Regions from separate parts of the Homo sapiens genome. Here region 2 is linked to region 1. The links come from fine-mapping of genetic effects on gene expression. Tissue or cell type: skeletal muscle. Region 1 holds a variant in brackets; the other region holds the start of a gene. All regions are shown on one strand. Distances are between the middles of the regions.

Region 1 (5,819 bases):
TGAACAAATGCAGCCCACAGAATTTAAAATGCAGACACTTGAATGTATAGGATCACCCAAAACAGAGAATTCTGAAGTCTTACGCCAGGGGTTGTTGAAAGGGAAATTCTCTTTTATAGGATTTTTTTCTTTATTCTCGTTTGAAGCAGTGTCTTTGTCTTCCAATGCCCGAGCAAGCATGTAGCTAACTTTTCTTTGATGAGCCAAAGCTTCTTCTTTATCATTAAGCTGCATGCACAGAAATTAAACATGTACAAGTTAGTCAATAAATCACAGAATATATTCAGAGAAAGGAGTATTGTACTATTTTATCAAGTTATTCAACCCTAATATTCATACTGATCTGTCCATCAGTATGAATAAATTAGGTATCACCTGATCCCCAAACATTATACTACATGTTATTCATGAATCTTTTTTTTTTTTTTTTTGAGACGGAGTCTGGCTCTGTCACCCAGGCTGGAGTGCAGTGGCACTATCTCCACTCACTGCAAGCTCTGCCTCCCAGGTTCACACTATTCTCCTGCCTCAGCCTCCCAAGTAGCTGGGACCACAGGTGCCCGCCACCACACCCAGCTAATTTTTTGCATTTTTTAGTAGAGACGGGGTTTCACTGTGTTTGCCAGGATGGTCTGAATCTCCTGACCTTGTGATCAGCCCACCTTGGCCTCCCAAAGTGCTGGGATTACAGGCGTGAGCCACCGTGCCCGGCCAATTCTTTTTTTTTTTAAGACAGGGTCTGGCTCTGTTGCCCAGGCTGGAATGCAGTGATGCCATCTTGGCTCACTGCAGCCTCTGCCTCCCAGGCTCAAGTGATTCTTGGGCCTCACCCTCCCGAGTAGAGTAGCTGGGACTATAGGCGTGCACCACCACACCTTGCTAATTTTTGTAGGCTGGTCTCGAACTCCTGGCCTCAAGTGATCCACTCGCCTCGGCCTCCCAAAGTGCTGGAATTACAGATGTGTGCCACCATGCCAGGCTGACAATTTTTTTTTTTTTTTGAGACAGAGTCTCGCTCTGTCACCCAGGTTGGAGTGCAGTTGCATGATCTTGGCTCACTGCAAGCTCCGCTCTCCTGGGTTCACACCATTCTCCTGTCTCAGCCTCCCATGTAGCTAGGGACTACAGGTGCCAGCCACCACACCTGGCTAATTTTTTGTATTTTTAGTAGAGACAGTTTCACCGTGTTAGTCAGGATGGTCTCGATCTCCTGACCTCATGATCCACCCGCCTCGGCTTCCCAAAGTGCTGGGATTACAGGCATGAGCCACTGTGCCCAGCCCCGACGATTATTTTTTAAAAATAATTTTTTAAAAAAAAAAACAGAAGACAGCATTGAAAATTTTGCAAGTCATCTGGAAATGAAGGGAAAATATAGATCTATATGAAGTGTGTATATATAGGTATATAATATCAACATATAAAAAATATATCAACGTGCATATTTATAAAATAATGTTGAAGTTATTTGTATATAAAATTGCTTTCATATATTTGTATGCAAATATATAACAGTCTAGAGATAAGTATGTTCATATAACCTGAGTCTCAGTGTCTTAGTTTAGTCATTCCATGTGGAATGTGGGTAGCAGGACTGTAAAGGATATAATGTGTGAGGAAATGCCTTGAACACTTTAAAAATGCCTCAATAAACAGGCAGACTTGTCACAAACTGTATATATATAAATGTAGATGGCAAAGCTGGCTGGAGTTAACTACAGGAGCCCCCTGTTTTCCAAGATGGAGCCTTTAAACCTGCACAGAAAGAATATGAATGACGAGAAAAGATGAGCTGAGGGAGATAAAGATCATGAAGGTAGAGTCTGGTACTCCAACTGGGAAAAGGACATAGAAGGCAAGTGCAAGTCTAGAGAGATAAAGAGTTGAATTAACAGGAAGCAAATAGATTAGCTTAACCTAGGGGTGTCCAATCTTTTGGCTTCCCTGGGCCACACTGGAAGAAGAAGAATTGTCTTGGGCCACACATAAAATACACTAACACTGGCTGGGCATGGTGGGTCACGCCTGTAATCCCAGCACTTTGGGATGCCGAGGTGGGCAGATCACTTGAGGTCAGGAGTTTGAGACCAGCCTGGCCAACATGGTGAAATCCTGTCTCTACTAAAAACGCACACACAAAATTAGCCAGGCGTGGTGGTGGGCGCCTGCAGTCCCAGCTACTCTAGAGGCTGAGGCAGGAGAATTGCTTGAACCCGGGAGGTGGAGGTTGCAGTGAGCCGAGATCGCGCCGCTGCACTCCAGCCTGGGTGACAGAGACTCTGTCTCAAAAACCAAACAAACAAAAAAACCAAAAAACAAACAAAACAAAAAAATACACTAACACTAATGATAGCTGATGAACTAAAAAAATATATATATATATCAAAAAGATCTCATAATGTTTTAAGAAAGTTTACGAATTTGTGTTGGGCCACATTCAAAGCTGTTCTGGGCTGCATGCTCCCCACGGACCGTGGGTTGGACAAGCTTGGCTTAACCATAACCTGCAAAAAAAAGCAAAGACACTAACCAAATCTATGAGCATCTTAAGGACCTCTTGAGGACTGTCCTGGTCTTCCATCCTCTTAGAACTGTTTTCTGAAGGGAGCATACCCAACAGTCTCTGCCCGAAGGTCTTCTTACTCCTTGGTGATGGAAATCCTAAAATTGAACATGAGAATCCAGCTGAGACATTAAAATATCCTCACTGATATACTTCCAGCAAAAGAGGTAACTTGATCTCTAGGACAAGTGAGTCCAGGAGCACACAGTGGAATGTAGTGAGCAGAGCACAGCCTTCAGAGCCAGGAGCAATGCAGGTGAGAGGCAGCAAGAGTGCCGCCCTGCCATGCGGCACAGCCACCCCTCTGTGCCAGCTGACACACAGGCCACACAAGAACACAGTCCATGTCACTGGATCATCACAGTCTTCAAGAGCAGCCAGAAATGCAGATCTGTCATGACATCTTCCAATTCTAAATGTCAGCCACTAGTCTTATTGTTTGACTACACTAAGCCAACCTAACAAAACATGTCTGCAGGCCACAGGGGGCCTCTGAGCCATGCAAACTCTGCTTCCGAACAGCAAAGACCTGGACTTGAATCCTCATTCAGCC[A/G]CTTACTAACTGTATGACCTCGGGTGACTTTTCTCAGCTTGATTTCCTCATCTCTAAAATGAGAATAGCATTACCTTCTTCTCAGGGAACTGTGCCATTAAATAATAAATCACACGGGCTGGAGAAGGGGAAGTGAGGAGTTACTGTTTCATGGGACAGGGTCTCTGTAAAGAAAGATGAAAATGTTCTGGAGCTGGATGGTGATGAAGGTTACATTACAATGTGAATATACTTAATACCACTTAAAAACAGTTCAAATGGTAAACTATATATATATATATATATATATATATATATATATATATATATATAATTTTTTTTTTTTTTTAGATGGAGTCTTGTTCTGTCACCCAGGCTGGAGTGCAGTGGCGCAATCTCGGCTCACTGCAAGCTCCGCCTCCCGGGTTCGCGCCATTCTCCTGCCTCAGCCTCCCGAGTAGCTGGGACTACAGGCGCCCGCCACCACGTCCGGCTAATTTTTTTGTATTTTTAGTAGAGATGGGGTTTCACTGTGTTAGCCAGGATGGTCTCGATCTCCTGACCTCATGATTCGCCCCCTCTTGGCCTCCCAAAATGCTGGGATTACAGGCGTGAGCCACCGCGCCCGGCCAACTTTAGATATATTTTACCACCATCACGACAACAACAAAAAATACCACAATTGTCAAAGGCCCTGCTCAGGTATTAGCATAATATTTAATATTTCACGTGCTGACATCATTGATGTCCTTCTTCATCCATTGAAGGAAAGTAATTTGCAGAAGTTATAAAATCTCAGATTGTACAAGGAAAATTTCAAGAATGTTTTTGGAATATTCTCCAAAAGTGGTTTAGTGGGAAACTGAGAGCAGATGAGGGGAGATCCCCTTCCCACCAATCCTGACAGACCACAGTGACGAGGGCGGCCCTGACCCCTTCCACGAGGAGCTGTGGCAAACAGAAGTCAGAGAAACTGACACTTTGATGAGTAGATGAATCTGTGTCCCTATTTTCAGTCTAAAAAAAGAAATAGCTTGGTGTGATGGCTCAAGCTGGTAGTCTGGAGGATTGCTTAAGCCCAGGAGTTTAAGATAAAAAAAAAAAAAAAAAAACCCAAAAGCAAAAATACAAAGAAAGAAAGAAGTATGCCTATAAACTACTTCCGGAAACTTGTCTAAACTGCCATATCAAAAAGAAAGTTGATATTAAGTGTTACTAAACATAAAATAATCTGTATCACCCTGTACCTCTTAAGATTACTGAAATATACTAATAAAATGAATTAAAGTCTTGTCACTGAGAAACTGAGAAAGAACTACTCAAACTTGTATAGATTTATAAAAGCTGTGCGAGATTAATCAATTTTTTTTTTTTTTTTTGAGATGGAGTCTCGCTTTTGTCGCCCAGGCTGGAGTGCAACAGCGCAATCTTGGCTCACCACAACCTCTGCCTCCCGGGTTCAAACATTTCTCCTGCCTCAGCCTCCCGAGTAGCTGGGATTACAGGCTTGTGCCACCACACCCAGCCAATTTTGTATTTTTAGTAGAGACAGGGTTTCTCCATGTTGGTCAGGCTGGTCTCAAATTCCCGACCTCAAGTGATCCACCCACCTCAGCCTCCCAAAGTCCTGAGATTACAGGCGTGCCACTGCACCCGGCCATCAGTTTTTGGTGGTTTTTTTTTTTTGAGACAGGGTCTTGCTCCATCACCCAGGCTGGACTGCAGTGGTGGGATCATGACTCACTGCAGCCTCAGCCTCCCAGGCTCAAGCGATCCTCCCACTTCAGCCTCCCTAGTAGCTGAGACCACAGGTATCTACCACCACACTTGGCTATTTTTTTTTTTTTAATAGAGACAGGGTCTCCCTATGTTGCCCAGCCTGGTCTCAAACTCCTGAGCTCAAGCAATCCTCCTGCCTCAGCCTCCCAAAGCGCTGGGATTACAGGCATGAGCCACTGTGCCCTGCCTATATCAATTATTTAAAATTCTGCCTTCAGTCTCTCTCAGTGCCTTACTGGAACTCAGAGATTGGGAGCTATACCCCTCTGAATTGCATTTTTTGTGGGAATCTTCCTTAGATTTGTCAATAGCTGAATGTGATATTGTAATATAAGAAATATATATTTGGTCTTTGCCCTCAGTTCCTGACATAGAGCTCCTAAAATCCTAGTAGATAGGGGTGTTAGGTGAATCTTTTCTCATAGTTGGTCTTTGACCCCAGTTCCTAACACACAATTCTTAAGACTGTAATTTCCTCAGTGCTAGGAGCATCTGACACAGAGCCCCTAAATCCCTTGGAATTTCCTGGGTAATAGAAGCATCTTTTGTTCTAATGAGGCTCTTGATGGGCTCCTGGATAGCCTCAGGATGGGGGCTGGTTGCCAGGGGAACCAATCTTGTGATTAGAAAGCTGGAACTTTCAGCCCTAGCCCCCAAACTCCAGGGAAGCGAGAGGGGCTGAAGGTTGAGTTGATTACCAATGGCCAATGATGTAATCACCAATGGCCAGTGATGTACCGTGTCCATGTAATGAAGCCTCCATAAAAACCCAAAAGGGTCTGGGGAGCTTCCAGATAGCTGAGCATGTGAGGTTCCTGAGGGGTGGTACGCCAAAGAGAGCATCCCTTCCCACGTGCCTTGCCCTGTCCATCTCTTTATCTGGCTGTTCATCTGCATCCTTTGTAAGATCCTTTATAATAAACTGGTAAACGGAAGTGTTTCCCG
Region 2 (5,000 bases), 48 kb after region 1:
CCAAACTATGTCATTCTTTGCACATTAATTTCACTGCCCTGGTGGAACGTCTCTTTAATTCCCCAAGGCTAGCCTGATAATTTCCTAATTGGTCTACTTCAAGCCAACCTACATACTGCTGCCAAGTCAATAATATCCAAGTGCAAACCGAATGATGTCTCTCTCTTGCTGTAAAACATTCCATGGCTCCCATGGCATGTATAATTGTAGTCAATGTCACCCTGTTTTCCTTTTTAAAAAAAATGTAGGCTGGGCACAGTGGCTCACACATGTAATCCGAGCACTTTGGGAGGCTGAGGCGGGCAGATCACCTGAGGTCAGGAGTTTGTGACCAGCCTGGCCAACATGGTGAAACCCCGTCTCTACTAAAAATACAAAAATTAGCCAGGTATGGTGGCGGGCGCCTTTAATCCCAACTACTTGGGAGGCTAAGCAGGAGAATCGCTTGAACTTGGGAGGTGGAGGTTCCAGTGAGCTGAGACAGCACTATTGTCTGTCACCCACGCTGGAGTGCAATGGTGCGATCTCGGCTCACTGCAACCTAGACCTCCTGGGTTCAAGCGATTCTCCTGCCTCAGCCTCCCCAGTAGCGGAGATTACAGGCGCCCACCACCATGCCCGGCTAATATTTGTATTTTTGTAGAGACGGGGTTTCACCATGTTGGCCAGGCTGGTCTAGACCTCCAGACCTCAGGAGATCTGCTCACCGGTCTCCCAAAGTGCTGGAATTACAGGCGTGAGCCACTGCGCCCAGCCGAAACTCCGTTTCAAAAAAATAAAAATAAAAATAATGTATCCAACTGAAGTGTCACCCTGTTTTCTACAACAAAGCTACAGTTTTCACCTCCAGTTTCATCTGGCAGTACTCCCTGGATGTACTCTGCGCTTCCACGTAAGAGGAACTGCACTTGCTCCCAGGGCTCCTCCCTCAGCTCAGCTTGGTCACCTGCAAGCCTCTATTGGTGCCATTCTTCACCCCAGGAATGCTGTTTCTTCTCAGAGCCCCCTCAGTTCAGGACAGCACTCCCTCCAGTAGCCTTCCTGACTCCCTTGGACCAGATGTGATTTCTTCCACATCTGAGTCTTCCCAGTTCTGGGAGGTTTTACTGAATCTTTTTAATAGTGCTTACTTCCTACCTGACCTAGACTGACTGTATATTCCCTTATGCAGAGACTTTGTGTGTCTCGTTTGCTTATGCACAACATGTGTTCCAAAGATATTTGACAGAATCGAAAGAGAAAACCGATTCCTGCCCGGAAACCTTTGGACAGAAGAATCTACATTCAGTAGCCTGACAACTCTGCCTTAGCAAACAAGTTGGTCAAACATGCCTAACTCCATGACAAAGAGGAACTAACTTGAGCCCTCCCTGGTGAACAATGGCCTGCTGCACTTTGCTTTAGGATTTTGTTTCTTAACTTTTCATTTTAGAATAATTTTAGATGTACAGTAAATTGCAAAGATAGTACTAAGAATTCCTGTGTACCTTTTACCCAAATTCCTCTAATGTCAACATTTGTGTACAATTTGTCGAAATTAAGAAATTAACATGGGTACGTGCTATTAACTAAACCACAGCCTTTATTATTTTTTCCACTAATGTCTTTTTCTGTTTCAGGATCCAAACCAGGATACTGGCGCTATAGTTTTATAAGGCTCAAAATTAACAGAAGAGAAAAAAAGTAAAGCAGGTGGAGAGGCAGAGAGAGAAATAGGGTCTCTGAAATCTATTTCTTATTTTTTTCTTATCAGACGAGGCCATTAAACTGGCATTCAGGGAAAAGGATTTGGGCAGTTTGTCCACAACCTGCAGAGTTTCCACGAATCTGCGCATCCCGCCCCTGCCCTGGGTCCTCCCCACTCCCGGTTCCCACCTGCCAGGTCTGACCCCGGGTACCCTCTCAAGGTCCGTGGCGGGGACCGGAGCCCGGACTCCAGCTCAGCGAACAGCACCCTCCTACCGCCCCGGCGCCCCACTCAGCTCGCTCACCTGGCAAGTAGCCTCCTCTCCGTGCGCGTGCGCCGCTGCCGCCGCGCGTCCTCCGGGCCACCACGTGACCGCGTGGGCGCAGTCCCAGACAGGAAACGCCGGTGAGGTCGCCCTGGGCCATGGAGGCAGCTCGCGCTACTTTTTCGCGACCTCACTGTGTTCCTGTGTGCAACCTGATGTTAGCTCTGTCCACCTTCAGCTCCAAAGCCAACCACGGGTAACCAATATGCAAACAATGACATGAGATTTAGAAAAACAACAAGACGGGGCCTGTGTCAATACAGGTAAAATTTGGTGGTTCAAACATTGAGGTTCAGACCGGCGCGGGGTTTCACACCTGTAATCCCAGCTTTTGGGAGGCCAAGGCGGGAGGATCGCTTGAGGCCAGGAATTCGAGACCAGCATGGCCAACATAGTGAGACCCCGCTCTACAAAAAATTTAAAAAGTAGGGCTGGGCGCGGTGGCTCACGCCTGTAATCCCAGCACTTTAGGTGGCCGAGGCGGGTGGATCACGAGGTCAGGAGATTGAGACCATCCTGGCTAACACAGTGAAAACCCTTCTCTACTAAAAATACAAGAAATTAGCCGGGCGTGGTGGCGGGTGCCTGTAGTCCCAGCTGCGCAGGAGGCTGAGGCAGAATGGCGTGAACCCGGGAGGCGGAGCTTGCAGTGAGCCAAGATCGTGCCACTGCACTCCAGCCTGGGCAACAGAACGAGTCTCCGTCTCAAAAAAAAAAAATAATTAAAAAGTAGCGGGTGTGGTGGTGCGTACCTGTAGTCCCAGCTACTCAGGAGGCCGGGAGGCCGTCAGGTGGGAGGATCCCGTGAGCCTGGGAGATCCAGGCTACAGTGACCACTGCACTCCAGCCTGGGCGACGGAGTGGAGACCCTGTCTCAAAAAAGAAACAAACCAAAACCAAAATATTAAGTCTCTAGGAATCCTGTAAGAGAAGGGTAGATCGGGCCAGGTGCGGTGGCTCACGCCTGTTAACCCAGCACTTTGGGAGGCCAAGGTGGGTGGATCACCTGAGGTCAGAAGTTTGAGACCAGCCTGGCCAACATGGTGAAACCCCATCTCCACTAAAATACAAAATTTAGCCGGTCGTCACACGTCCGGAGGCCGAGCCGTCGCGTACCTAGGATGCCGCGTGGAAGCCGAAGCCGCACCTCCCGCATGGCCCCTCCGGCCAGCCAGGCCCCCTCAGATGAGAGCTGCACCCAGGCCAGTACCAGTCGTTCAGCCACCAGCAGCGGCACCCCCATCTGTAGTTGGCTCTTCTGCTGCTGCGCCCCGGCAGCCAGGTCTGATGGCCCAGATGGCAACCACTGCAGCTGGCGTGGCTGTGGGCTCTGCTGTGGGTCACGCCATTACTGGGGCTTTCAGGGGAGGAAGTAATGCTGAGCCTGCGAGGCCTGACATCACTTACCAGGAGCCTCAGGGAACCCAGCCGGCACAGCAGCAGCAGCCTTGCTTCTATGAGATCAGTTTCTGGAGTGTGCCCAGAACCAGGGTGACATCAAGCTCTGTGAGGGTTTCAATGAGGTGCTGAAACAGTGCCGACTTGCAAACGGATTGGCCTAATCAAGAAGTTCAACCTGGAGAGATGGAAAATCAGCTCTCATAACTAAGTTAATTTAGTATAAAAATAGAATTGATAGTGAGGGTATAAAGTGTAACCATGAGTTAAACCTCTCCTGTCATTCCTAGCTTCCTTGCTTCAGAATTGAAATGGAAGGGGGGTGTTCCTACTCTGTAGAATCTGTGACAGGGCAAATGTTTGTGTGGCCTCCTTAAACTAGCTGTTATGATTTTATTCTTTGTGAGTTAATTAGAATAAAGTCATTTTCTTCCAAAAAAAAAATTAGCCGGTCGTGGTGGCAGGTGCCTGTATTCCCAGCTGCTTGGCTGAGGCAGGAGAATCTCTTGAACCCGGCAAGCGGAGTTTGCCGTGAGCCGAGATCGCGCCACTGCACTCCAGCCTGGGTGACAGAGCAAGACTTTGTCTTAAAAAGAGGAGGTGGGGGTGGGAGAGAGAGAGAGAGAGAGAGAGAGAGGGAGAGGGAGGGAGAGAGAGAGAGAGAGAAATCTAAGCTGAGGTTCAGAGGTAGAGGCAGTCATTGAAAAACAGGCTTTTGCGGGCGGGCGGCGTCCACTGCAAGGATGCACTGTCTGGCTCCCTCTGGAGGCGGGAGCACGAAGGAGCGACCACGGAGCCCTTGAGCCTGTGGATGGTGGCCTCGGCGGCCGGCAGGCCATGCTGGAGTATCTGCCAACCTGATGAAGACGAGGACGTCCCACAAGTTCCGGACAGACGTGGCCGCCAAATTAATGAGGAAAGAAAAGGAGTCTTTTTTTTTTTTTTTAAAGACAGAGTTTTTCTCTTGTTGCCAGGCTGCAGTGCAGTGGCGAGATCTCAGCTCACTGCAACCTCTGCCTCCCGGGTTCAAGTGATTCTCCTGCCTTAGCCTCTGGAGTAGCTGAGATTACAGGTCTGCACCACCACGCTCAGCTAATTTTGTATTTTTAGTAGACAGGGGGTTTCTCCATGTTGGTCAGGCTGGTCTCGAACTCCTGACCTCAGGTGATTCGCCCGCCTTGGCCTCCCAAAGTGCCGGGATTACAGGCGTGAGCCACCGTGGCTGACCAAAGGTGTCTTAAGCTTAGAAAAATGATAAAAGATATAAAAGCTGCCTAGGAATGAAACTACTGGGTCATATGAGGCTCCTTCAGGGTGCGCAAAGTCCTGGAAACCAGCATGCAGATAAGGAAAGAAAGAGACCATCAGTCCATGCAGTTGTCAGCTGGCTGGGAGCTGAGGAGAGTCACTTGTGGAGGCACCTGATCTTTGTCCCCCACGTCCCAGACAAGCCCATATCTCACTTTCAGAACTAAGATGCTTGGGAAACCAAGACAAGGAACTGTGTATTGCAAACAGCATTACCCTAGAGAAGAAGTGGCAGGAGATGACCTACAAAAAAATGGAGCAATAGCCTAGAGCAAGAAACAG

Which allele goes with the higher level. Alleles are on the strand shown, and positions count from the first base shown. SD is a standard deviation of normalised expression in the study named.
As copies of G replace A in region 1, the expression in skeletal muscle of the gene that starts at base 2,028 in region 2 goes up (moderate effect, 0.68 SD a copy in GTEx).

The links. PIP is the estimated chance that this variant, and not a neighbour inherited with it, causes the effect.
Region 2: it holds the start of CCDC125, and the variant in region 1 is fine-mapped to the expression of CCDC125 in skeletal muscle (GTEx, PIP above 0.99).

What each region holds. Positions count from the first base shown.
Region 1 is chr5:69,282,807-69,288,625 of GRCh38, forward strand. CCDC125 (coiled-coil domain containing 125) reads right to left here. Exons shown (of 12, transcript NM_176816.5): 11 at 2,531-2,661; 12 at 1-228. Among named protein-coding and RNA genes, the nearest start is that of CCDC125, 47 kb to the right of the region's middle. The variant A/G (reference allele first, on the strand shown) is at 3,117.
Region 2 is chr5:69,330,774-69,335,773 of GRCh38, forward strand. CCDC125 (coiled-coil domain containing 125) reads right to left here and starts at 2,028. Exons shown (of 12, transcript NM_176816.5): 1 at 1,876-2,028. It also overlaps the pseudogene CHCHD2P2.